2 separate regions of the Homo sapiens genome follow, and region 1 is linked to region 2. A link means that fine-mapping ties the variant in region 2 to the expression of a gene that starts in the linked region. Tissue or cell type: whole blood. Region 2 holds a variant in brackets; the other region holds the start of a gene. All regions are shown on one strand. Distances are from middle to middle.

The links. PIP is the estimated chance that this variant, and not a neighbour inherited with it, causes the effect.
Region 1: it holds the start of GZMA, and the variant in region 2 is fine-mapped to the expression of GZMA in whole blood (INTERVAL, PIP 0.92).

Annotation. Positions count from the first base shown.
Region 1 is chr5:55,101,131-55,103,630 of GRCh38, forward strand. GZMA (granzyme A) reads left to right here and starts at 1,516. Exons shown (of 5, transcript NM_006144.4): 1 at 1,516-1,622. The coding sequence starts at 1,553.
Region 2 is chr5:55,429,233-55,431,732 of GRCh38, forward strand. All of the region lies in intron 4 of PLPP1 (phospholipid phosphatase 1), which reads right to left. Among named protein-coding and RNA genes, the nearest start is that of MIR5687, 78 kb to the right of the region's middle. The variant T/C (reference allele first, on the strand shown) is at 1,429.

The DNA.
Region 1 (2,500 bases), 330 kb before region 2:
CCAATGACTTTCTTCACAGAATTGGAAAAAACTACTTTAAAGTTCATATGGAACCAAACAAGAGCCCACATTGCCAAGACAATCCTAAGCCAAAAGAACAAAGCTGGAAGCATCATGCTACCTGACTTCAAACTATACTACAAGGCTACAGTAACCAAAACAGCATGGTACTGGTAATGGCTGCACAACTATGCAAATATACTAAAATCCATTGACTCATACACTCTAAATGGGTGACCTTTATGGTGTGTGAATTATGTCTCATAAAGTTGTTAGAAGTCAACATAAATGGAAGAGCAACCATTCACATAAAAATAAACAAAATTGTCAATGTTTTAAGAATTTTTCAGTAGGTGTAGTTAATTACAATTTGACTTTTTTAAGTCTGCACTAAAATTACTCACCAAAACCAATAGCAGGGTCCTCACTGCTGTTACTGAAAATGATTAACCTTTGATACACTTGTAATATCTGAGAAAAAGAAATGCAGGGGTCTCAGCAGGGCTCCCTTCTAAGGTCACTTGATTTCTAAAGAAGTAACCACTAGGTTTGAAGTCATCAGGATGTTAACTATGGGGATGGTTGGTTCAGTACCCAACATCCTGACAGCACATCTGACCATGTATATTGTATCGGAGACCACATCCTCAGCTCAGAAAAAGAGCTGAACTCATTTCAAATAGAAAGCACACTGCATACTGTTCCTCCAGGGACTGAGGTTGACTCTTCTTAGAGTGAGACATTCCCCAACATTGGAACAAAAATGACTCCCACTTCTTTTCTCACCTAAACCTGTTCAGAAGAAAGTAAGGAAGAAAGGCAGGAAGCAGGGGTCGGGGGGGGGCGGGGAGGGAGGGAAACTCGGAGATACTTTCAGTATCTAAAGTTGTGAAACTAGACAATCAGGAACGCACAATCAGAGGGCTGAAAAGGGCCAAGAGCCCCTACCCTCCTCCAGCCCATGTTCCCACACCTGCCACAGACCAGGCAGGAGCACAATAAACACTCACCACAAAGTGGGGAAGGAAAATCCAGGCAGGAGCCTCTATGTAAATAAATCTCCCTCCTGTCCTCAGCTTGCACTTGGCCTGCTAATTCTTATATAACCCAAGGAGACAGCTAGAAAGAATTTTGATTGGTGACCAATTTTGAGGACTTTTATTAAAATTCTAATTTAAGTCTTCGAGAGTTTCCAGTCATGGATACTACAGATAATATTGCAGATGATGAAAGCGTCTTCAAAATCATAGCTGAGACACTTTACAGTCTTCCCTGGTGTACTCTGATGGCAACAAGGTCCCTTGCCCCTCTCCTACCCTGTAGAATTCCAGCGCCCCCCTCAGCAGTCCTAGCAAAGGAAAGCCTGCCTGCTGGCAGTGAGCCATCATCCACCATTCTCACTTATTTGGATTTGGTTTCCTAATGCTAAACTTTGAAACTTGAAAAAAAAAATGAAAGGAAACCACATCCTTTTTACTCTCAGTATATAGATAGAGGCAGTTAAGAACTGAAAACAGATTTTCAGGTTGATTGATGTGGGACAGCAGCCACAATGAGGAACTCCTATAGATTTCTGGCATCCTCTCTCTCAGTTGTCGTTTCTCTCCTGCTAATTCCTGAAGGTAAGACTGATTCTTCTCATTTCCATTATGACCATGAAGCAAAATGGAGCAGACTTTCAATGAACTTTTGGCAATATTACCTTCCTATACTGAAAGAAGATGTTTTCCCCCAAGCCTTATAATGTTTAGCCAGGCACAATGGCACATGCCTGTAGTCCCAGCTACTAGGAACGCTGAGGTGGAAGGATCACTTGAGCGCAGGAGTTTGAGTCCAGGCTGGGCGACATAGTGAGACCCTGTCTCTATTTTTTTTTTTTAAATAGCATTCTTTCTTGGATTTTAAATATGTCTGTATTTTAGAAAAAAAAATCTTTTCTTCTCATAATTATTTTGCAAAAGATAGCAGAACCACCAATGCTTATTGCTGCCAATTTGTAACTTGAAAATTGCCAAAAAGGACAATGTAAAAATGAGTTAACAAAACTCTCTTGTTCGTAAAACAAATAGTACCTTCCAGGAAAGGAATAGTGGCAACTTAGTCAGCTCAGCCTTTCCTGCTGCAGAAAATGCATAGATAAAGACAATTAAGACAAATCTGACCTAGACACCAAAAGTGAATCAGGAATTATTAGAATTTTTATACTTATTTCTCTGGTCTAGAGACTCTTTGGCAATAAATTAAGGCGTGAGGCCAGTTCCCTCATTAACCCTTTGGGTGTGCTATAGTATTTTTTATTAAGCTAATTTTTTGTCTACCAAATGGTAACCAATATTTCTGCTTTTGTGTGAGTTGAGCATGCATGGGTTAAAATGCTGTATAATTCATGGTATTACCACTGAAAGGGTGACAGCTCTTGGGGAGCTCTAGATTTCCCTTGAAGAACCTGCTAGGAAGTGAGGACTACTCTCAAGCTGTGGCAATATGGAGCCAGCCACGG
Region 2 (2,500 bases):
AAACAATGGAGTGGTTTCAAGATGGCTGACTAAAGTGCCCCTGGTACTTGCTTTCTGCTTGAAGAACCACCAAAACAGTAGTAGATAAATCACACTTTGAATAGATCACCTAAGAGAGAATGCTGGAATTTACCACCAAAATGACAGGAAACACCTGAGGCAAGTAAGGAGAGGGAAGCAAGGCAGGGTACCTGGCAGGGATTGGTTGGGGAGGCTCCCCCATGCTGGAGAAGGGTAAGTGACCCCCAACAGTCAGCATCCGCATTCCCATTGTGAAGTCCTGCAATCCCAGCCATGGAAGAAACCCTCAACCCACACAAACAGGGAACTTGGGGACTGCATGATGGCACTGCTCCAGAGAGGGAGCTCATCCCCCCGAGTCCTAAGCAGCTACAGCAGGGCACCATTTTGAGAGCCCCACCCCCAGCAGACTGCATCATTCCCTGAGGCCCAACAGCCCCTGCATATCCACATCTCTGAAGCCCCATTAAAGTCCCCCACCCACAGCTGGGTGCTGCCGCAGGGCCAAAGTATACAAGCTACTGGCAGTGAGCCAGCAGAGCCACTGTGCATTGTCAAGCCTGATTACAGGCTACCCTGTCCTGCAGATACCATCTGGGGCCAAAGTGCATGCTCCCAACCCACCTGTTTATGACTGCTGCCACACAAAAACACCCCTACCTACCACAGCCAAGCCCTATACACACCACTGAGGGACCTATCCAGCCCGGCTCCACCTACCCCTATGCCCAAGCACACCATCGGGCGTTGGAGGGTGCACCTATCATTAACACCTGAGCACTCCTCCCAGGGGCCTCAGGAAGGGACCATCCAACCTGCTGCTACCACCACCCACATGCACCACCTATGGGCCTGGGGACTAGCCACCCAGCCCATCACGGTCACCACCACCACCAGCGCAAACCACTTGGGAATCAGAGGGTTGTCCTGCCACTGCCCGCACCACACCTGCTGTCTATGGGCAGCAAGCCCGAGGACCTTCCCACCGTGCTACTGCTGGCATCCAAGCAAGCTTCCTGGAGACCCAAGAATCAGCCCACCTGGACCCTCTAACATCAGTGCCAGCATACACTGCCCCAGGGCCCAAGGACAGGCATGCTCAGCCTGCTGCTGCCACTCCTGGGGCTCGAGGATGGGCCCACCTAATGTTCCCATCTCCAGCAAATGCTTCATTGCAGCAATTAAAAACTGCAACTTAAGCCACTGAGGAAATCACACACAACTGATAACTTTACAGCCAAAGAAATCATACTGAGACTACACTATTGCATGCATCTGGAATCAAAGCCAAAGTGATCTACCCGACCAACACCACAGATATATCTTAAGGAAAATATCCTCCCCTATGAAGGCAAATTCAAAAAATTGGAAGAAGTGACTGTTAAACCAGATGTACAGATACCGAAA[T/C]ACGGATTCAAGAAACATGAAGAAGGAAATATGACACTTCCAAAGGAACACAGTAATTTTGTAGCAACAGATTCCAATGAAGAAATGTGTGAAATCTCAGAAAAAGAATTCAAAATAATGATTCAAAAAAAATTGAAAAAGCTCAGTGAGATACAAGAAAACAGCAATCAGAAAAATAATACAAAGAAATCAGAGAAACCATTTAGGATATGAATGAGAAAATTCCCAAAGACATAGATATAAAAAAAAATTCTGAAATTGATGAATTCATTGAATGAAATATAAAATAGATCCAACAGTTTCAACAATAGACTGCATCAAGCAGAACTTCAGAACTTCAAAAATTAGGTCTTTTGAACCCAGACAAAAATAAGAAAGAATGAGCAACAGCTCTGTGACATATGTGACACCATAAAGTCATCAAATATTCAAATTTTTGGTGTCTCAGAAAACAAAAATAAAAGGGATAGAAAACCTATTTGATTAAGTAATACCCGAAAACTTCCCAAGTCTAGCAAGAGATTTAGACACCCAGGCACAGGAAGCTTAGAAAACCCCAAATAGATGCAATTCAAAAATCCATGGCATATTACAGTCAAACTGTCAAAAGTCAGAGAATAAAACAGCAAGAGAAAAGTATCAAGTCACTTAGAAGGGGAACACCTATCAGACTAACAGTGAATTTCTCAGCAGCCACCTTACAGGCTAGGAGAAAATGGGATGATGTATTGAATGTGCTGAAAGAAAAATAAACCCCACCAGCCAAACTATTCTCAGATCGTGATGGAATAAAACTGGAAATGAATAATGAGGAACTTGGGAAATTGTACAAATGCATGAAAATTAAACAACATGCTCCTGAATGACCACTGGGTCAGGGAATAAATTAAAGGAATAAAAAAATTTCTTGAAACAAATGAAAATAGAGGCAGGACATACCGAAACCCAACAACAATGCTAGGAGGTAAATTAATACCAATAAACGCCCACATCAAAAATCTAGAAAGATTTCAAGTAAATAATCTAACAATGCAACTCAAGATAGTAGAAAAACAAGAACAAACCTAAAATT